2 separate regions of the Homo sapiens genome follow, and region 1 is linked to region 2. The links come from fine-mapping of genetic effects on gene expression. A gene starts in region 2. The other region holds a variant in brackets. All regions are shown on one strand. Distances are from middle to middle.

Region 1 (12,021 bases), 25 kb before region 2:
GAGCGAGGCTCCGTGGGCATAGGACCCTCAGAGCCATGCGTGGGATATAATCTCCTGGTGTGCCGTTTGCTAAGACCATTGGAAATAAGCAGTATTAGGGTGGGAGTGACCCGATTTTCCAGGTGCTGTCTGTCACCCCCTTTCTTTGACTAGGAAAGGGTATTCCCTGACCCCTTGCGCTTCCCGGGTGAGGTGATGCCTCGCCCTGCTTTGGCTCACGCTCGGTGCGCTGCGCCCACTGTCCTGCACCCACTTTCTGACACTCCCCAGTGAGATGAACCTGGTACCTCAGTGGGAAATGTAAAAATCACCTGTCTTCTGCGTCGCTCACGCTGGCAGCTGTAGACTGGAGCTGTTCGTATTCAGCATCTTGGCTCCACCCTAAAGCCCATGCTTTTAACCACCATGGTATTTCACACACTCCTACCTCATCGTAGTACAGGACTTGTGACCTCATTATTATAACACAACTAGAACACTGAGCTCTTGTGCTTTCAGATGTGCCTTGTGTGTAACAAAAAATAACAATAGAAAAGGATTATTTGAATTCCAACTCACTAATGTTTCTTTTGAGTAGATTACAGGCTTTTGGATACCTAAGGTAAGACACTCAGCCTGTATTTCCATACAACCTGGCTGTAATTCAACCTTCTAAAGGAGTAAATCAGGAAAAGTACTCTGTTAGGTATGGAATCATTTTTAGAATTATGTGGGTTGCAGTGTAAATTCACCAACACACTCCTATTTCAGAAGTTTTTCTTCCTGTTTTTCATTAAATAAAGTAGGTAAAAGGCCCCTGCCATAATGCATTAACCCCACCTCTGTGGACAAAGATGGTCAGGATGGGGTTTAGAATGCATTTACTTATGGGTCGTGGTTTTCCTTCCAATCTGGCTAACATCAGCTTAAGCTTCCTTAAGTAATTTCTTGGTCTTCCTAACTGGAGCTAGAAGTTTGAGATAAGCATGACAAACTGTTCTATTCTAAAAAAAAATTAGGGAACAATGCATATTACTACAACTAGTTTATTTTATTAAGAAATAAATTGCAGCCAGGCACAGTGGCTTGTGGCTGTAATCTCAGTACTTTGGGAAGCCAAGGTAGGTGGATTGCTTGAGCTCAAGAGTTCGAGACCAGCCTGGACAACATGGTGAAACCCTGTTTCTACCTCCCCCAGCTCAAAAAAAAAAAAAAAAAAAAAAAAAAAAAGCTGGGTGTGGTGGTGCACAACTGTAGTCTCATCTACCTGGAAGGCTGACCTCCCAAGCTTAGGCGATCCTGATGAGGCTGCACTGAGCCATGATCTTGCTGCTGCACTCCAGCCTGGGTGACAGAGTGATACCCTGTCTCAAAAACAAAAACAAAAAACTTAATTGCTTTCCAGGGTTCAAATGTAAACTACAGACAGGAGATTCCCATAACAACATATGAGGGCTTTAGGAAAAAACAAAACAAAAACAACCCTGGAAGATTTCAGGATAAATAGAAGACACGTTTTTCTACCAAACATACTTTCAAAAGTAGAAAATCATGGATTTAAAAACTTTTTTGTAGGGCTTGATATGTCTAAATGTATCAAGTTTCAAGTGTGCTAACTTTATGAACACTTGTCTCTGTCCTTAAATGCATAACATGATCTTAAATTTTTCAGATCTTTAGAAATGTTAAGCAATGCAAAGATTTCTACCCCATCTCCCTCCATATCTTTAAAAGCCAAAAACCACCTACCAAAACTCCATTACTGTTTGTGAATGAAGAATTTTCATGACTTGAAAACCTTCCTAATGTCCCATCGTTAACACTAACTTTTTTAGAAAGGAGGGCTCTTGTTGTGTTCTTTAACCTCTTTTCACATCATAAACTTCTTCATGGTTGACATCAGTACTATCCTCTTAAAAATTCAAATGTGAACTAACAGCATCATTTATTGAAGGCATATTATGTTAAAATTAGTGATTTTCCCAAGGACAAAATGTTAAGTAGAAAAGTCAGTACTCAGATTCAGGTGTGACTCCCAGGCCCAAGCATAGCCTGGAATGAATTAAGAAGGTCACCATATTAATTTTCATAAGGTGAAAGAAAACAAGCATTATATATTTTTCCACATCAGAAAATGTTGAAGACCTAAGAGACTCCAGTGGCTGGCTCTGAACCCTACAGCAAGACAGTGGCAGAGTTGGAATGGATTCCAGATGTCTTTGCGAACGATTAAGAAAGAGTTACTGAATAACTTTCCATTACTCTTAAAAAGTTACTCTTACCAAGTGTATTGAGAATTCGGAGATCTGAAGTAAGACAGAAATCTTTGTTTTCAGTTGTCTTTAAGCTTTTGCCAGTAACATGGTCCCAGTAGAAGAAAACATAAAACTGTAATCCTAATCAAATTTTGCAACATCAAATACTATTTCAATAGTTTCAAATACTATTCCAATATTGTTCCAGCAATATTCCAAATAATACTAAGAAATATTTTAAATGAATAAAGACTAACAATCTTCAAAAGTTTTACAGTTTTCTGTTTGTTTTATTTTGCCTACTGTGCAAAACATTAAATTATTTGTATGTAACAGCTGCTTATTCAAAACTTTGTTCTTACTCTGTTACTAGTTATATTAACAATATATCCCTCTTCTCTTTGGATCTTTGTAATAATGGAGTACAGTTATATGACTTACATGCCATTTATAATTTTCCCTGAAGAGTATTACCTGAAGCTCTTAGATTTAGTGAGGACATAAGTTTATCCTATTTTAAAGGGAGAAAATATGATATTGAGAAGTCACACCGGTGTATCAGCAATAACTGAGGTTTCAGACCTCTGTGTTTTGCAGTTTTGACACTGACAAATTCTAGAGATGGATTAAAAAAAACTATTACATCAATATGGTAAAGCAACTACTAATAGCAGGAACAATCAGTCTCTGTGAGGAAATATTTTCCTTGTTAAACATCTGGCCAACATGCAAGAGCTGCTAGACTATTTAAAAAAATTTTTTTATACAGAGCTACAGTTCTTAACTTTCTGCAGCCAAGCCACTTCAGCCCCTATGGCCAACCTACTTCACCCAAGCCACTTGTCAACACATATGTGTACATCCATGTGTGCAGAAGAACAGACAAATTCATATTTAGCTTTCAGATGAAAAGTATACCATTTTAAATGAAAGAGTTGGACTCAGAATAAGTTGTGTCAGAAGTTAAATGATAGAGACATATCATAAGTCTTGATACTTCAAGAGACTAAGTAATCACTTTAGAGGACCTTTCTGTGTGATACCTTTATTTAAGGATCACACTTTGAAAACTGTTACTCTACACTGATTGCCTGAGAAGTTCCTTTTACAGGCTGGCAGAGAAGCTTCCAAAAGAGTGTATGGCAGCGTTTTTCCTTCAAAGATTATTCTATTTCAGAATAGAATAAACTGAAAAATCCACAGAGTAACATTTAAAAATTCCATAATAACAGTCAAAATATTACATTTTTGTTTGTACTACAAAGGGAAAGATAGTCTGCATGGCCATCTATCCCAAAAGTTGTAAAGATCACTGGTCTAGAAAGCTAGCAGACCAGTGCCTTTAAATTAGGTTCTATCAGAAGATATTTTCTTGAAATCACTATGTCAGTATAGATAATTTGACCATCTGTTTCCTGAGTGTTACATAAACCTTCCTTACATCATATGTCAAAATAAAACATTCCAGTTCACTAACCTTTATGGGATTTCAATTCCACTTTCCCCAGTTGGCTGACATAAACATCTATGGCACCCTGATTAGTTGAGGCTTTTAGACATCCAGAAGACGAATCTAGGAAGAAGAAAAAACCATAAGTAAAATAATTCTTACTTGATAAATGGAATTACAAACTTAAAATAAAAGGCTCTGCTTTAGCATTAGGATAAGGGGCTAAGAATCTTGCAAGGTTTAGTATTTTCCTCATAACAATGCCATTGTTTGCACTTGAACGTAAACAGTATCAGAAACCTAGAAATCTATTAAACAACTAATTTAAAAATCTTTATCTATATTAACCTGAATAACTTATCTCTAAACATTTACTCTAAAACTTAATGAGTCGGAAGGAGAGTCTGCAAGTAATGGTTCCTTTGACCACTAAGCATCATTGATATATTTAGTTTTTTATCATGTTGATACATTTAGTAAACTTTCAATAATTACCAAAGAATTCTACCTCATGTATAGTCACATACAAGCAGTAGCAAGGCTGACAAAAATCAAAACCTCTCATAATTTCTCCTTGTAGCAAATTTGCTGATACTAAGAAGTGCTCCTAATAGTAAAAGATTACTCTACATAAAGTTGTCGCATTTCTTTTTTTCTTTTTTTTTTTTTTTTTAGAGACAGGGTCTTGCTATGCTGTCCAGGCTGGTCTCTGACTCCTGGGACCAAGCCATACTCCTGGGATTACAGGCACAAACCACTGTTCCTGGCTTGCTGCATTTCTTTAAGGGGCAGAAGGGCAGGGTGGAATAATTTGAAGAATAGCTTGTTTATATCTAATAGTTCTTTTCAAGTTTCTGGAATTGAACAGGTATCTTTAAGTGAGGATAAGAAAATAATAATTAAGGTAACCCTGATTTGTCATTCAAATTTCCCTATGTGGTCAATGACCCCACTTTTGAATCAACCAGTATCTCAAGTTCAAGGGAAAACAGTCAAAATAAGGAAGTAAGAAAATGAACTTGAAGAGTTAGTGCTAAGTGGTTTTTCCTTCTTCTCTTTCTCCCATGGCAATTGAATCTTTAATTTAATATTCTATCTGACTGCCTGGAGAAAGCCAAAGCATATTCTTTTTAGAGAGGCCTCTTAAAAAGCATATTTTATCAGGAGGTTTTATTACTTCAAAGTGGAAACAAAGTAGGGAGTGTGGTGAAAACTATGCCAAAAATTATACTGTTTACAAAACAGAGAGAGAAAACATTTGTGTGTGTGTGTGTGTATAGGAGCCAACATTTTTCTTTTAAAAAAATGTTAACTGACTTCAAACAAAGAGAGTAAATTTGGAATAAACTGTTTAAAATGCGGCTCCAAGATCATTTATAATAATTTATTTCCAATCTATACTGGAAAATGCCCTTTATCAGACTCAATTTATTTAGTTTTCAAGTGTCAAAAGTTAACACTGACGTTGGGAAATGAAACCACTAGAGATAAATGACACAGAATAGCTGGACAAAATGAACATTTCACTGCTTACGAACCAACAGAAACTCCTTTTTAAACCTCTTACCGCATCCTAAAAGAAGCCAAGTAAAAATTACATTATGCTAAAAAAAAGAAAAGTGTAATACACAAGGTGTGTATTATTCCAGTTTGAACAAAGTAAAATAGCTGAAACATTAGTGTGATTTCTCGCTTTCTCAAGGAGGGAAAAAAAACACACACAATTTTTATGTGGCTCATAAATAATACTTTCATTTATTTTTCCCTCCAAATGAGAAATAAATGACAGCTAAATAATTATATCCTAGGCCACAAAGTAATTATATCCTCATGTTATCTGTATTGATCTCTAATGATGGCTCATCCCTTGGAGGATGTTAAAAAATAAAAAAATGAAAACGCAAGATGTTTTCAAGAAAGAAGGCAAAGGTGATATTTTAAAACTATGCAGCAAAACAAGCCCTCCTATTTTTTTTGTTTAACACAAATTATCAGAACTAAAATTAATTATCAAGAGTAAAATTAAGGCTTCATCCACAGAATTTCATTCTTTTGGAGTTTACATAATGGAGAAATTCTATGGATCTGGGAGAAAGTCCTGTAGATCTAATGTATAGCACAGTGACTGTAATTAACAATACTGTACTGTAAACTTGATATTTGCTAAGAGAGTAAATCTTAAACATTTTCATCATACACATAAAATGGTAATGAGGTGAAGTGACAGATATGTTAACTAAACGGACTGTGGAAAT[T/C]ATTTCACAGTATATATGTATATCAAATCATTATATTGCATGTATACCTTAAATATATACGGTTTTGTCAATTATGTCTCAATAAAGTCAGCAAAAGCAAAAAAAAAAAACAAAAACAAAACACACCACAAAAGATACCAAAATAAATCTACATTGTAATGTGATTAGCTCAGTGCTTGGCACATGGGCACTGAGTAAATGATAGATATTTTAAAGAAAGGGCCAGGTGTGGTGGCTTATGCCTGTAATTCCAGCACTTTAGGAGGCTGAGGCAGGAGAACTGCTTGAAGCCAGGCATTTGAGACCAGTATGGGTAACAAAGTGAGACCTTGTCTCTATTTTTTAAAATAATAAACAAGTAAATAATGTTAAAAGAAAAATCAGTCAGTATAGTTGGTCATATTAATAAAAGAAAAATGATCATTTCAATAAATTCAGGAAATGTGTTTGACAAAATTCAACACTCATTCACGAACAAAGAAAGTAAAAAAAGAGAAACTTTTAAGCAAACAAGGAATAAAAGATTACTCTCCCAATCTGATAAAAGGCATCTGTTAAAAATCTATAGCTAACATCACACTTAATGCATTCCCCCTAATATTGGGGACAAGGATAGGGATCAAGTGCAAGGAATCACACTCTCATCACTACATTCAACATTATACTGAAGTTCATAGCTAGTCTGATAAGGCAAGAAAAAGAAAAGTAATAAAGATAGGAGGGAAAGAGGTAAAACTCTATTTGCAGTTGAAAATGTCTGCTCAGCTAGAAAAGGATTCTAGATTTGAGAAAACCACTATTAGAATAAATTTAGCAAGGTCACAAGATACAAGGTCCATTTATAAAAATCATTTGTATTTACATATATCAGCAGTAGACAATTAGAAGCAAAGTCTTAAAAACTGTCTCATTTGTAACAGTGTTAAAAACACAAATGAATTTAACAAAAAAATGTGCCAGATCTCTACACTGAAACTTACAAAGCAATGCTGAGAAAAATTAAAGAAGACCTAAATAAATGGAGAGAGCTACCTACCATGTTCATTAATTGGAAGATACAATGTGATTCAGTGCAATCCCAAACATAATCAAAACTGTATTTTTTGGTAGAAACTGACTGGAAAATCAAAGGACCTATTATATCCAAAGTAATCCTTAAAAGGAACAAATTTGGAAGACTTCAACTACCTGATTTACAGACTTACCAAAGATACAGTAATCATGATATTGTGGCACCGGCATAAGGCTCACCAAATAAATCAATGAATTAGGAACAAGAGATCAGACATTGAGCCACACTTATATAGTGATTTGATTTTAGACAAGGATGCTAAAGTAATCCATCAGAGAAAGGAAGTTTTTTCAACAAATGATGATATAAAAAAATTTTAAAACTGACAATAATAAATGTTGATGAGGATGTGGAGCAACTCAAATTCTCATACATTGTTGATGAGAGTATAAAGTGGAACTTTGGGAAAAGGTCTGGTAGTTTATCATAAAGTTAAACATAGAACCTACCTAGTCAACTCAGCAATGCCATACCTACGTATTTACCCAAGAGGAAAAATATATATACATCCATAAAATGACTTACATTAATATATTCATAGCAGCTTTATTTACAGTTGCCAAAAAATTAGAAATGGCCCAGGTGTCCATCAACAGTAGAATGAACAAATTAAGCCTTCTAATAGCCTGCTTTCACTTCTGAACCCTTCTGGTACATTATGAAATAACAGCTAGGTTGTTCTTTTAAAATATAAATTATATATCACTTCCCTAACATCCTGTTGTAGTTGGAATAAAGTCTGAACTCTTACCCTGTCTACAAGGTCCTAAGATCTAGCCTTACTTACCTCATATCCTACCACTTTCCTCATAAGCCAGCCTTCTTTCCCTTGAAAATAGTAAACTTCCATTTTCAAGGCCTGCACTTGCTGTTCCTCTATCTAGGGAGCCTGTATCCAGAATTTTATATAACTCTTTCTCATTTTTCTGGCTTTGGTTTAAATGTACCCTCTCCAGACCACCCCCAATTGCCTAACTGAAGTAGCTTTCTTTTTCCCCAATCTCTATTCAGTTACCCTTTCTTATTTCTTCATTGTACTTACCACAAACTAAAATTACCTTTTGTTATTTATGTGCTTGTTGTCTTTCTTCCCAGGGCTCAGAGAAGGTGAGGTCTCTGAGCACAGAAACTATGTCCTGTTGACCAATATGTTCCCTAGTACCTAAAAGAATTCTTAATACATGGCAGGTACTCAATAAATACATGTTGACTAACTAGTTATTGGTATTCACAAGGTTGTCTTCAAATGTTAACACATTTGGAGCCCAATAAACAGTGACATTATTTATATCTTTCTTTCAAGGACTTAATTTAGATATTTGAAGAATTCAAGAAATTTGTAAGATCTTTTTTTCTTTCTTTTCTTTTTTTTTTCTTCAGAGAAGTTTAGCAAGAAATATAAGACATTTCTTAATACCAGCTCAGGCGATTTTCTTCGAGTGGACATAATTAGTACATTGGTTCTGCCTATATTTGACTTGTGATCCTGTCAAGTTCATCAGTTAAACTGTAGAATTCATTTATTCTAATAAAGTCATCACAAATATACCCATTTTTAAAAGTGGACAAAATACACGAACTAGTAGCTTAGCACATACCTACTGTGATGTTACCCATCTTGCTTTGTAATGTTATATTACCTGCCAAAAAGAAAAAGATACTTTTATGTACTAGAGACAATCTAGAAAGGAACTGTGATACATAGCAATGCTAAAACATGGATGAATATCTACAATGTTATTTTTGTTGGCAATTTTTCCCAATATCACAAGTCCAGTCAAAGATTGAGCTGTAGTTCTGAAATAACTGGCTTAGGTATCTCTGCAAACCTTCTTTCTCTACTACCAAACCTTAAGCTTTTATAGCATAACTACAAATCACCATAACTGCTGGCACAGAGGAAAAACAATACTTCTAAAACCTGTAAGTGAAAAAAATTACTGAAATGTAGTCACTGTACATTTTCAACCTAAATATCAATGTATTTATCAGACCACACAAAGCGAAGTTTTCAACCAAGTAACACTAAAATATGGTATGGAAAAAAAGAATTACTTTTATTTTTCAGGCCACTTGCCATGTCTATTAAATTAAAAGTAGTTTCTGGGCCAAGAATTAAAGTGGTTTGAGATAGGAATAATGAATACATGGAGGTATGACTAACAAAACAGAACAAAGAAGCTTCAAAGATTTCCGTCTTAGTGAAAATATGTTTTCCATGATAAGGATGGAATATTGCAACCATTCTTCCCAGCCCCTTTCCCCTAACACCAAAAGTAGTAGGATTATTCTTCATATGTGTGTTTGTATGTGTAAGTATTCCTAGAATCAGGAACTCATATTTATTCTACTGAAAATATAAGCAATAATGTTATCTCTTCTAAAATAATTCCAAAACTACACTAAAAAGTAAAGGAATAACTTTGGCCTCAGAATTAATCTTCAGTAAACTCATTTTATCTCATTTCATATACCTTATGAATACTGACTTGTATCAGTATCTGGGAAAAACCAAAAAAAGGCACTGGATTCATTTACTCAATAGCCAGATGCGCCTAATTGCAAAAATCCATCTGAAGGTCTAATATACCATCATATTTCTTGTGAGTATATGAACAAGGAGTATATTTGTGTATGAATAAAAACTTGGTTTGTGTACTGAAGCTTATAAGATTACTAATTTTTTTTCATATTTTAGATTCAGGGGATACATGTGCAGGTTTGTTACCTGGGTATATTGTGTGATGTTGAAGTCTGGGGTACAAATGATCCCATCACCCAGGTACTAGGCATAGTACCCAATAGTTTTTCAACCCTTGCCCCGTCCCTCCATCCCCCATCTAGTAGACTCCAGTTTCTACTGTTGCCATCTTTATGTCCATAATTATCCAATGTTTACCCCCCACTTATAGGTAAGACCATGTGGTATTTGGTTTTCTATTCCTGTGTTAATTCGCTTAGGATAGTGGCTTCCAACTGCATCCATGCTGCTGCAAAGGATATAATTTCATTCTTCTTTATGGCCGCATAGTATTCCATGGTGTATATGTACCACATTCTCTTTATCCAGTCCACCACTGATGGGCACATAGGTTGATTCCATGTCTTTGCTATTGTGAATAGAGCTGCAGTGAATATGTTGAGTGCATGTGTCTTTTTGGAAGAATGATTTATTTTCTTTTGTGTATATATCCAGTAATGGAATTGCTGGGTTGAATGGTGGTTCTGTTTTAAGTTCTTTGAGAAATCTTCAAACTGCTTTCCACAGTGGCTGAACTAATTTACATTCCCACCAACAGTGTATGAGTGTTCCCCTTTCTCCACAGCCTCGCCAGCGTCTGTTGTTTTTTTACTTATTTTTAATAATAGCCATTCTGACTGGTGTGAGATGATATCTCATTGTGGTTTTGATTTGCATTTCTCTGATGACTAGTGATTTGGAACAGTTTTTCATGTTTGTTGGTTTCTTGTACGTCTTCTCTTGAGAAATGAGCAAAATGTCCTGTCTTTTGCTCATTTTTAATAGGGTTATTAGTTTTTTGCTTATTGATTTGTTTAACTTCCTTGAAGATTCAAAGGAACAAAGGATATTAAACCTTTGTCAGATACAGAGTTTGCAAATATTTTCTCCCATTCTGTAGGTTGTCTATTTACTCTGTTCATAATTTCTTTTGCAGTGCAGAAGCTCTTTCATTTAATTAGATCCCAATGAGGCAAGTCTAGGAGGACAGGAATCACATCTTTCTTATTTAGCTTCATACCTGGGAACTTTGCACAGTGCATAGTACATAGTAAACACAATTATTTTGTGAACAAATAAAAAGTTTGGAAAAGTAGGTAAAGAGCAACCTGTGGTAGAACCACAGAGTGCTAAGTCTACTGACTATCCTACACCAAAAAAGTTAGTGAAGAATTTCAAGATGAATAAAAATACAAGAAAACCATGCTTTAAGGAGATTCACCTAGTGTGAGACAGTGGGTGTTTCCATACTCAGCATTCTCTTTACTGCTTGTTGTGGTTTGAACGTTCCCACAAAAGTTCATGTGTTGGAAACTTAGTCCCCAGTGCAGCAATACTATGAGGTGGGACCTTTGGGAGGTAATTGGGTCATGAGGGCTCTACCCTCATGAATGGATTAACCCATTCATGAATCAATGGATTAATGGGTCATAGAGGGAGTGGGTTAGCTATTACAAGAGTGAGTCTGTTATAAGAGCCAGTGTGGGTGTCTCTCATGCAGCCTCTCTCCATGTGAGGCCTGTGCCACTTCATGACTCTGCAGAGCCCCTATCCGCAAGAAGGCTCTCACCAGATGCGGCTCCTAGACCTCAGACTTCTCAGCCTCCAGAACTGTAATATATAAGCTTTATAAATCACTCAGTCTCAGGTATTCTGTTATAGCAACAGAAAACAGACTAAGACACTGCTCTACCTCCTGAACAATAAAAGATAGACAGGTCCCTGATATTCGTAACTTTATTAATAAAGAACTATGATAAAGTTTTACAGTCATTTAGCTAGTGAATCCAGTCACCCACTCATCAAGGCAATGGAGCTTTATAGTTTTACACTAGTCTTTAATAATGCAGTAAAAATTTACAATTTTTTTTAAAATAAAAATATGGTCTTTCTCAAAAAGCCAATCATTAGTGCTTGTCATGAAAGTGAGGAGGTCTTGAGAAAACAATGATTCTTTGAACCAGAAAAATAGAAGTTTTAGATCTATACAAAATGAGGATTAGTTAATTATAGTGGGACCTATAGAGTCTCAGATAACATTCTTCTTGAATGTTTGAGTTCTACTGTATACTAAAAGCATAATGGAGCAACAACAACAAAAACCCATGGAATTAAGGAATCATTTCAAATACTGTCTAGTTGTAAGTAACACTTCAAAATATTTTTGTCAACTCTAAATAAAACAGTAAACAAAAACTTATTTTCAACTCATATCAAAATATTTAGAAAATCTCTACCTTAAACAGAAATATTCTAAAGTCATTAGAAAA
Region 2 (12,021 bases):
GTGGCTCCCATTTTATGACACAGGACAGGCAGGAAAACAGTCAGCTCAATGGGATCCATGTCGTGTGCAGTCACCACCAGCGGAGCTTTCTTGTTATCCACAAAGGTGGTGATGGTGTTAACTCCTGCTCGAAAGACAGGTGGTCTCTTAATGGGGAGGTCCCCTTTGCCCACAACTCTGCCTGGGCCAACAGCCTCCGCTTCTTCTCTTGCTTTGTCTCTGGTCTGTATTTGTGGGCCAGCTTAAGCAGCTGAGTAGCTGTTTGGCCTTCCAGGGCCTGGGTGAACTGGTTAATCGCAGGAGGCACTTTCAGCTGCTTATAGAGTATGGATCTCTGCCATTGCAACCTGATATAGCGGGGCCATTTCACAAAGCAGGTGAGGTCTCTTTTGGGCTGGATGTCCTGTCCAATGCCAAAATTCTTAGGCCTTTTCTCAAACAGGGGATTCACCACTTTCTTGGCCTCCTGCTTCTTCACAAAAGCAGGGGCCAGAGCCAACTTCTTCCCCTTGGCCTCCTTTCCTTTCGGCATCTTGGGCGACGGGAGGCGCACACTTGTTGTTTTAAGTCAAGAACTCTTAACCAAGCTCACATGAACTTACAAAATTATAAGTAAAATTTCATAGACATGCATTTTTTTCTTCTTAAGGAGACAATTAGATTTTCTAAGAGGTCTAAGGTTCAAAAATAGTAAGAGCTACTGTTATAATTTAAAGCTCATCTAATTCCCCAAAAAATGTGAAGTTGATTATAGAATTTTTAAAAACATAAAACCAAATAGTTAAATGTTTAAATAAATCAGAAATTATTTAGAAAATAAATTATACTGCATTTAAAAAATGCAAATGTGTGACATTCAATTAGTTAAGGGTCTGTTGCCTAAAAAATGCACTTATCTTATTCCCTAAGGATGCTGTACAAATGTGGTCTTACCATATGTTTTGTCAGGACAATAAATAAAGGTGGAAAAAGCATGAGCTTGGAAATCAGAAAGACCCAAGGTCAAATCCCAGCTCAATTTTTTTTAGCTATGTGAACGCAAGTGAGTTCCTCAATCTCTTGGTGCCTTCTAGTTTCTTCCTTGATAAAATGGAGAAAATTCAAGGATTAAATGAAGGTTTAGCTAAGATTCCTGGTACATAATAAGGACTTATTAACAGTAGTTATTATTATTGCTATAAAAATTTTATTATGTAGGGCTGAGCACGGTGGCTCATGCCTGTAATCCCAGAACTTTGGGAGGCCAAGGTGGGGCAGATCATGTGAGGAAAGGAGTTCAAGACAAGCCTGGCCAACATGCCTGGCCAAAATTAGCCGAGCATGATAGCGGGTGCCTGTAATCCCAGCTACTCGGGAGGCTGAGGTGGGAGAATCACTTGAACCCAGGAGGCGGAGGTTGCAGTGAGCCAAGATCGTGTCATTGCACTCCAGCCTGGGCAACAGAGTGAGACTCCGCCTCAAAAAAAAAAAAAATTTTTTTTATTATGTAGGTCAACTATATTTCAAGTCCTTAAGTTAATGAAAGAGACACATATCAACAGGTGACCACTAATTCAAGGTAATGATATTATTGTACGATACTTAAAACTTAAACCAGATATTTTACCAAAGTGTTCTCATTTGTGAATTGAAGTTAGTTAAATCCTATGATCTCAAGGATAATTCTCTTAACCCTTGGTATACCATTAGTATCCACAGGCGTAATTTTTCATGAATTTCTTGTTTTGAGCTATTTTATTTGTAAGAACTGATATTTCATGATTTCTGTTATTTCTTGGGAGGTCTTTCAAGGAATAAATAGAAAATGTACTTACTTTTAAAAAAATAGAACAAAACTCTTTCTATCCTGTAATTACCATTAATTGGTCCATTGGACTTTTATAAACCTGAAATACATTATGGGATAATAGTGTTCTTATTTTTAATTTTTTTTTTTGCTAATTCATCATCCTAGGAGTTATTTCATCATTATTCATAAATTATTCCCAACTATGTTTTTTAAAAAAACTAAATAAGAAAACAGAAGAATGATGGACTTGCATAAAGCAGTCGTTCTCAACTGGAGATGATTTTGTCTCTAGAAGATATTTGGCAATGTCTGGAGACATTTTCCCTTGTCACAACTGAGGAGCATGCTACTGGCATCTAAAAGGTAGAGGCCAAAGATGGTGCTAAATATCCTATACTGCACAAGACAGGCCCCCACAACAAATCACCTGACTGAAAAGGTTTGTATTGCCAAGGCTAAGAAACCACTTTTAATTTTATGCCTACAATGGCATAAAAGAAGAAAATCAACAGAGAAAGATCTTTCAGAACTATCAGATTAATCAAAACATAAATGCAGAGACAGCAGTATACTAGATTCTAATTTTGATTGTGAAATTGGAAATCTCAAACTCTTGAGTCTTCAGAGGACAAGTCTAGATTAGTTTTCTGAAACTTAAGTATCAATGACTGAACAAAATATTTCTAAGGACAAAAAAGAATTATGATATCCTCACCTAGTCATTCAACATGAAGACCTTATTACACAATCTTTTACAACAAGAATCTGAACCAACTTATTTTGCTAAAAGGACTTGTGATGGTAATGTTAATCTTTTATGATATTTGTGCCAAAAATTTATTTGAACTGATTCATATGTGGACACATGCTGATGGCAGATACGCAAATAAAGGTGGATGAAAGAAAAAATATGTAAAAATTAAAAATGCATCAAATTATTCTAACTAGTGTTTAGAAATCTAAAAATGAAAATATTTTGCAATTATGAAGCAAAGATGACTGACTTCAACAAAATTGCATGCTTTCAAAGTTCACAAAAGTATCAAGTTTTGACTATGCAAATGCAAGAAGCACTAAGAGTAACAATAAGCTAGCACCTATCAGAGAGGTATTTCAAACTATTTACAGCTAACACCAGTCTAATCTTTAAAAAATTAAATATAGGTCAGTCATGGTGACTCACACCTGTAATCCCAGCACTTCATGAGCCCAAGGCAGGAGGATCACTTGAGCCCATGAGTGCAAGACCAGCCTGGGCAATACAGTGAGACACTGTCTCTACAAAGAAAACACTAAAAAAAAAAAAAAAAATTAATTACAGCCGGACGCAGTGGCTCATGCCTGTAATCCTAGCACTTTGGGAGGCCAAGGCAGGCGGATCACGAGGTCAGGAGATCGAGACCAGCCTGGCCAACATGGTGAAACCCTGTCTCTACTAAATATACAAAAATTAACTGAGTGTGGTGGTGCATGCCTGTAATCCCAGCTACTTGGGAGGCTGAGGCAGGAGAATTGCTTGTACCAGGGAGTCAGAGGTTGCAGTGAGCTGAGATTGCACCACTGCACTCCAGCCTGGTGACAGAGTAAGACTCCATCTCAAAAAAAAAAAAAAAAATTTTAATTACAAAACAAGATGAATCATATGTTACTTTGCACAAATAACTACTTAATCCTTAAGTAATGAGCTACCTGGTACATTAAAAATGTGATTAAAGTCATCTAATATTTAAGCACATTTATAGTGCATAAAGATTCTTCCTTACTCTTTAATAAAATGGAAGAAAATCATTTGTGGAAACTAAAATTTCTTTAGTAAGATTTCAGAATACTAGGAAAATACTATTAGTTTCACTGTACACTTTGAAATTAAATCCAAAAGAAATTTGAGGCAAAACCTCAAAACTGCTATAACCTCTGTACTTTACTAGAACTGATTTCAAGGCAAAATGTTTGCCAAGGACTTTCTGAGAGATGAATGAATGACAATGTTCTGAAAAACAGAAGAATCTCTTGAGTTTGATAGTACGATTCATAGCTTAAGGCTTTTAAAAAAATAATAGTGAAATAAAATTAGAAAAATGCTATACCTTAACAGACTGCAAGATACTAGTCCCATGCTCTGTTTCAATTTTGCAATTATCACCCTCAATACTTTGAACTTTTACACAGCCAGACCCTGATGACTTGATATCTAAACCTAGAAGTAAAAAAAGAAAAAAGCAAGTTAGTACTGCAGTTTATAAGCTCCAAAGCATTTTAACCTAGAAACCCAACTCCTCAGTTATGTCCGTAATATTGCTGAATCCTGGAAAGTGCATACTGTAAAGGTAAGGGGTCTTCTACCACAGCAACGGGACCAAAAACAATAGCCTTTCTGCCCGTTTTTAGAAACAGAGCAGTTATTTCTACTGGCCTAAATCACCTAAAGAGAACTAACATAGATGGGAAGTAAAGGAGACTACGATTCTGTTAAGTACTCCTGTGAAAGACTGTAGAAGCCTCTTCCCCAGTATATATGATCATGACTTAGGTTTTCAAATCCTATGTCTAACCTTTCATACTTAAAAAATGAAAATATTACCATGCAACTATATCACAGGTATTTGAAGTAATTTTTTAAAAATGGGAACAACTTTGAAAAAGCTAATATATACTATTAAAACTACAAGATTAGGCCATGAGCAGTGGCTCATGCCTGTAATACCAGCACTTTGGGAGGCCGAGGAAGGAGGATTGCTTGAAGCCCAGGAGTTCAAGACCAGCCTGGACAATGTAGCAAAACTCCATTTCTACAAAAAAACAAAAACATTAGCCGGGCATGGTAGCATGCACCTGTAGTCCCAGCTACTCAGGAGGTGGAGGCGAGAAGATTGCTTAAAACCGTGAAGTCAAGACTGCAGTGGGCCATGATTGTGCACCTGTACTCCAGCCTGCGTGGCAGAGTGAGTGAGATGCAGTCTCAAAAAAAACCAAAACAAACAAACAAAAAACCCCACAAGATTGTGGACAAATGGCAGTGGTATATGAAGCAAGTTTGGAAAATAAGGAATTACAAATGCCATCCTTGGCTGTCTATTTAAGATGTAACTGCAGGCATCTCTGTATACAAATTTTAAAAATTAAAAACGCTGATATTTAATTTGGAATTAACATAAATATTGATGATTTCTCTTAAAGTAGGCAAGACCCGCCCCCCCACTTGATTCCTGAAACCACAAATAGTACCAAATCCTATATATTCTATGTTTTTTCCTGTATACATATCAATGATCAAGTTTAATTTATAAACTAGGCATAGTAAGAGATGAACAATAATAACAAATACAGCAATTATAACAATATACTGTAATAAAAGTTATATTACTGTGATCTGTCAAAATATCTTAATATTTTCCTACAACAGCTGAGGCAGGTAACAAACTGAGACAGCCAAACGGTGGATAAGGGAGGACTACGGCATCTACTATTTGGGCAACTCTAAGCATTATAAAAGATGATCTTAAAAATGCTAAATGCTATTATTATTACTATCATCATCATCATCAATATCTTCCATCAGTCCCAGGAAGAATGACAGTCTGGGGAGCCCTTCCTAGAAAAGTGTGTGTACACAGTGGCTTGCCATTTAGGAAAAGCTAAGAAAGGTATCTTGCAGGCATTATTATTGAAGCTTCCTAGGCAGGCTTACCATGTGTTTTTCTTCAAAGCTTGCTACTCATGGAAAACTTAGGCCAAAAAGAATGGAAATATAACAGTAAGAAGCTGGGCGCCCGTCTAAAACCAAATACTCAAACCAGGTGATACCCGGAACATCCTATTGACAGGGCTGTTTTGGGACAGACCCCCAGGCTGTGAGCAAGATGAAATGTAGATGGACTGCCATACCATTGAATGAATTGTCAAGAAACTTCAACCTTGAAAAATAAGCCAGTTTGCTAATGACAACGGGATAAAGGAGAACACAAGCGGCTCCAGAAATAGAATTTGACCTGGATTATACCAAATCATGTTTCCATTCGATGTATAAAATTTCTATAATTGGGAACCTAATTTTTAAATACTACTCGGACACTCAAGAACAGAACAGAGGAAAAGGTGCATTTCCGAAGGGGCCAACTGTAAATTAGGTTTAGAGAGCCAGGACCAATTAAAAGTGCACGTCGACCACATTTATTAAGTTCACTGTGCGTTCCCTGGGACCCAAACCCGTTTTCACTTCACTTCACTTGCCAAACTTCAGGGGCGCGTTCACCTCCACGGACGCCTGGGGGTGGATAGTATCAGACACAATGGCCATCTCCTCCAGATCCTCGTCGTACTTCACCTGCAGGCCGTCCAGGCCCCGCACGCCGCCCTCCACGCCGCACACCGCGACCAGCACGCGGTCGCCATCCGGGTAGGTGAGGGGGTCCAGGGGCCTCACGGCCAGGTGGCACGGGAGCCGCGCCCGCAGCCGACCAAACGGGCTCACCTGCAGTGTCCACTCCTTCAGAGTTCGGCGCCCCGGGCCAGGCGGAGGGACCTCAGTCTCCGATCCGGGCCAGCGCTCGCTCCCACCTGAGCTGTACGGCCTGGCTTGGCAAGCCCAGCAAGCCCAGCGCCCAGCGCCAGCCCACAGTCGGACCTGACGGAGACAGAGACGGAAGCAGCCAAGCTCCCAACCTGAGCAGGGGGCAAGCATGGCGCGCCTCTCTCGCCAGTCCTCAGAACACTTCAGCCACAGGGAGGGTCACTTGCCACGGCCAATCGACTTGGCCACTGTGCCGCCTCAAGTCAAATAGGAGACGTAAGTCAGGGTTTGCTGAAACAAGAGCGAGCCGGTTGGCTTGACTAGGCGTTCTAAACATCAGCCGCGCAATCCCCAGGGGCAAGTTGGGATTTGAAAGCTCTAAACTCTGACCTGGACCCCTTGCCTAAGTCCACCCCCTTTCGCTAAGGCCGACGGGATAGGTAGTTCTAAGTCGCAGAGCTCTGCCTCTTAGAAACCACATTTCCCAGGAGGCAATGCGCAGGGGAGCACGGGTAAGAGGGTAGGTGTTAGAATCGCTGGAAAGGCGGGCGCCCTTTGTCTCAAGACCATTGGCTATTGGAGGGGCGGTACATGGGAGTCCACTGGCCAATGGGAAGCACGGAAGGGGCAACGCGGGTAAAGCTGCGTGGTCACCTTGGATACCAAGCACGCGACTTCTTGGTTGGAGAGGGTGGAGCTTTGGAGTGAGACCCAGGACGCCAAATCCCAAAGAGAAAAATAGGAGCCTAAATAAGGATCAGGACCAAGGGAAGGGGTAAGAAACTGCGCTTTTTAAGATGACAACTAGGTGCAAACTAGGAGTAACCTCTGTGGATGTCAACATCCAAGCTTCACTAACTTAGTGAGGGCATCTCCAGGGCATGGAGAATGCCTTGGTAAGAAAGTAAAGAGCAAGATTGGTGCTTTTTGAGGGAATTGCCTCTTTGGAAGTGTATTCCCTCCTATATTCCAAATATAGGAATAGAGTACTTGCTCCGTCCTGACCCTAAGTGACCTTACTTTGGGTTTTAATTTGCTCACTTTAAAAATGTAGATAATAATACCTTCCTTGCCTTGCCTCAAAGGGTTTTTGTAAGGATCAAGTAAGAAAATGGATGGGACCGTGGTGCACAGTCTACAAAATTACCGTGTAAAGAACTGTATTTTTATTTCAACGTACTTAACATTGATTCTGAGTTACCAAGAAAATTATGAGAGATCAGAACTTGTTTTGAGAATAGCATTGATCTCTTTGACTACAAATGATCCTCAGTTTTAGAGTGAAAAAAAAAAAAAAGACACAAAAAAGAGAGTCACCATGGTGCGGTGGAAAGAGCAGGGACAAGGGTCAGGTTATTTTCCTGGCTCTGCCACTGCTTCATCTGTGTCACCTAGACCTGTTTCTTTAGTTTTAAAATGAAGAAAGATGGTTCTAAATGACCCTATAAGGGGTGTGTGTGTGTGTGTGTGTGTGTGTGTGTGTGTGTTTACCTTTTATAATTCTATAGGCAGTAAAATAATGGGAACAGAAAGATTTATTTTCTTCTTTTTTCTTTTTTTCTTCTTTCCTGCCTGGTTTCTCTCTCCCCCTCTGTGCCCCTACTTCCTCCTAAAATGTATTCCCTAAATTATTTAGCCAAGACACCTGCAAACACTAACATTTCATAAAATGCAAGTGCCTTAAAAAATAGAAGCCCTTACCCAAGTACAATGACCAGAATTCTTGGGGCTATCGTGATAGATAGACTGGGCTAAAGTTCTCATGGGTACAAGTCTCAGGTTCTCTGCTAGCCACTACCTTTTTAAAATTTTTAAAAATTCAGTGTTCTCTTAAGTTATCATTGCCTCTTTTCTGTCCTTCTAGTCCTTCCTCCCTCCTTATTCTTTTGGTGAAGACTCACTCATTATAGGTGCTAGCTCAGGTTCAGCAAGGGCCCACTGCAATAGTTCTTTTCTTGTCTTTGTGTTTCATTGGTTATAATTATTCAGAATAATCTTCAAACTATTTTTTATGAAAATTGAGAGGTGTAACTTTGAAAAGAAATTTGAAAAAGGCACTGGTTTAAGGAAGTTGAGAAGGTACTCAAATTTTCTGTAGAAACACTAGACATTTTTAGATTAAATATTAATTCTAATAGTTAATTCTGTGTCTATGGTAATTTTTCCTTTTCTGAGACAAACTAAGTTAATGGAATTGGCAACTGAACTATAATTTTCTATGTTGCATGATCATTATTTTACTTTTTCAAATAAAAACCAAATAGAATTGACTGAAAATTTACTTTGCTGATCATACAATGTTGAAAATGGAGAAAATTATTAATATTAAGATTGGCATAAAATATTTAAAGTTATAGACACTTAAAAACAGTATAATGAGTATCAAATCTGTCCACATATCAACAGTGATTAATAAAAGTTGTATCTTCCATCCATATGACATTATAATTGTCAAACCATGTTCACATGCGTCATCTCAATGTATCCTCACTAATTAGGAGGGAAATTATTCTCCTCACACTATAGATGAGGATTCAGATTCAGAAACATTAAGATTAAGCAATTAGAAGGTCTGGCCCTTTTATCACTCTACCAAAACGTCCATTTTCCTGACACCTTTGAAGAAAAAATGAAATTATTCACCTCATAAGTAGAAAATTATATACAACTTTTTTCTCCTTATTTAGAGTTTGTTTCTAAGATATTTTCACATCTTAGTTTTAAAAAGCTATTTCCGTGGTCATGAACATATACTTCTGGTAGGAGTGTTAAGTTAGCACAAAATTTTTAGAGTTCAATTCAGCAATAAGAATGAAAAGCTTTTTCTATGACTCAGAAATTGTGCTCTTGGGGATGTAAGCATAAAATTAGGTATGCTCAAGGAATTACGTTTTATAGGGTTACTTGTAAGAGAAAATAATTGCATCAATTTAAATGCTCCCTGGCCAGGTGCAGTGGCTCATGCCTGTAATTTCAGCACTTTGGGAGGCTGAGACGGGTGGATCACCTGAGGTCAGGAGTTCAGGACCAGCCTGGCCAACACGGTGAAACTCCATCTCTGCTAAAAATTAGCTTGGCGTGGTGATGGATGCCTGTAATCCCAGCTACTCAGGAGGCTGAGACAGGAGAATCATTTAAACACAGGAGGTAGAGGTTGCAGTGAGCCGAGATCACACCACTGCACTCCAGCCTGGATGGCAAGACTGAAACTCTGTCTCAAAAAAAAAATGTTAAATGCTCGCAAATAAGACAGTATTACATAAATTAGTATATAGCTGATATATTATGCAACAATTTAAACATTATATCTTGATATGGGAAATAGTCCATATATAAAGTGAAAAGAATATATACAAAATTGCACGTATAGTATGATCTCAATTGTGTAATAATAATAATAAATTTAACATAAAATTATACTTTACAGAAACAATTCCAGAGGGATATGTACCACTTGATAACAGTTGTTATCTTTAAGCAGTGATATGATGAGTGGTTACTGCAATTTTTTGTGTGTTATCAATAGTGAAAATATATTACATTTATAAGAAAACAATTTTAAAGCATTTCTTAGCATATATTGTTTCCTAAAACTGACTCAAATAATCAGATGGGCAGAAGATTTCTTACCATCTAGACATAAATGTCAACGAATATTTTATTTAATGATTTATGTTCAATAAATGGACAGCAGAGGTCATAAGAGAGTTTTCAGAAGAAAAGGTAACCAAAACAAAGACTTCAGCAATTTAGCTTAAGAGAAAAGCCATAAGAACTTAACTTTCTGAATTATAAACTATTTAAAAAGAGATATATCTTATGACTTCTATTATTCTTATGAAATATTAATAAACTCAACAATCTTAACTAATAACTATCAACATTGAGAAGTATTTAATGACTATATATAGGTACTAATTCTATTTGAAATCTCTATGTGAAACTGCAAATAGACAGTTTTATTTCTTCCTTTCTCTGTATGGCTTTTCTTTCCTGGTGTTATTGCACTGGCTAAGACCACCACTACAATATTGAGTTGGAGTGGCAAAAGCAAAAATCCTTGATTTATTTCCTATTTATGAGGGAAATTTCAACAACAATTAGGAAGTTAGCGGTAGATTTTTAAAGATGCCCTTTAGCAAGTTAAGGAAGTTTACTTTCTAATTTGCTTAGACTTTTTATCATAAGTGAATGTTGCATTTTGTCAAATGCTTTTTCTGTGTCTATGAAGATGATCATATTGTTTTTCTTCTAATTTATTGATATGGTGTATTACAGTGATTGTTTTTCAAGTGTTTCATTCCCTCAATAAGCTACATTTCATCATGTTATTGTCAGGGAGTTTTGCGTTGCCAATTTCCTGGCCAGAAACCTCTGTGGCCACAGCACCTTTGCCCGAATTCTTGTCCTGCATCCAGGAAGAATGAGGTACGCAGACAAGTGAAGGGTGAACGAGACGAAGATGAGCTTTATTAAGTGTTACAAGAGCTCAGAGGAGACCCACAGTGGGTAGCTCCTCTCTGTAGGAAGATCATCTGTCCAGCATTCAGTTCTCATTAGAGAGGTGGCCCTGGAGAGGGTAGCTCCTCTCTACTACTGGTTGTCCTGATGTCTGCAGCTCTCAGTGGAGAGGAGGCCCTGGAGAGGGTGCCTCCTGTCTGCTGGCAGGTTGTCTCTGAAGCTCTCGGCAGAGACGGTAGCTCCTTTCTGCAGCTGGTCCTTGTGTAGTCTGTCTACCCTCTTCGTCCTTTGGCCATCCTCTGCCCTGCTCTGGCTGAGTCCAGGGCTTTTATGGACCTCAGAGGGGAGGAAGTTCATGCTGATTGGTCCATGGGCAGCCATGGGCTGCTGGAAGAGGCCCCATGAGTCCCCAAACTGGTATGCAGTACTGGCAGTTGGCCCCCAGCCTTCAGGCCCTTCCTGGACTGAAGGTAGAGCCTTACTGGGGACCTGCCCCCTTCCACCCAAGAATCTGTCTGCCTCCCGCTGCCATTCATGGCCCCAGGGCTCAACCCCAACCCCACTCCAAGATCTGAGCCAGCTCCAGGAGAGGAGAGAGGTCAGGAGAGGAGAGAGGTCAGGCAGCGGGAGCAGACACCCCAAGCCTGCAGGGATAGGGGGGCCTTCCGGGGCACCAGAGGGTACAGGCTGCAGAGATGCCTGGGTCCCGTGGGTGAGAGGGCAGTGGCAGCTGCACCCAGGGAGCTCCCGCAGGCCAACTCAGCAGGGGCAGGATTCCCCAGCTCCTGCCTGCTCCATGTTGTGGGAGGCCCAGGTCTGCAGCTGCTGGTCAGGCGGCTGCAGCTGCACCCAAGAGGGCAGATCCTGCCTGTTCCCAGCCCCACTTCAAGAGCGCAGGGAGGCTCGGATCTACAGCTGCAGTTTGGGCGGCTGTAGCACCGTCCAGGAGGGTGGGGCTCCTGACTGCCCCATGGAGTGGGAGGCCTGGGTCTGCAGTCCCAGCCTTTCCTCCCTGCTGCAGCCAGCGTGATGGCACCAGCCACTGCCATCATTATCTTTTCTATAAATTGCTAGATTCAACTTGCTAAATTTGTGAGGATTTTTACATTTTATTTTCATGAAGGATATTGGTCCAAAGTATTCTTTCATGTCTTTTTCTGGTTTTGATATTAGGGTAAAATTAGAAGGGCAAATGTTGCCTCTTTTATTTTATGGAAGATTGTTAGAAAATTGTTAATATGGTTTAGTTTTATTTGTCCTG

What was found.
Region 1: its variant is fine-mapped to the expression of FAM185A in neutrophils (BLUEPRINT, PIP 0.95).

What each region holds. Positions count from the first base shown.
Region 1 is chr7:102,769,039-102,781,059 of GRCh38, reverse strand. It overlaps FAM185A (family with sequence similarity 185 member A), which reads right to left. Exons shown (of 8, transcript NM_001145268.2): 5 at 8,610-8,651; 6 at 3,712-3,807. Among named protein-coding and RNA genes, the nearest start is that of FAM185A, 26 kb to the right of the region's middle. The variant T/C (reference allele first, on the strand shown) is at 5,940.
Region 2 is chr7:102,743,657-102,755,677 of GRCh38, reverse strand. FAM185A (family with sequence similarity 185 member A) reads right to left here and starts at 6,679. Exons shown (of 8, transcript NM_001145268.2): 1 at 6,020-6,679; 2 at 3,877-3,986. The coding sequence starts at 6,470. It also overlaps the pseudogene RASA4DP and the pseudogene RPL7AP39. RefSeq lists silencers at 6,690-6,859, 6,900-6,989 and an enhancer at 6,662-6,956.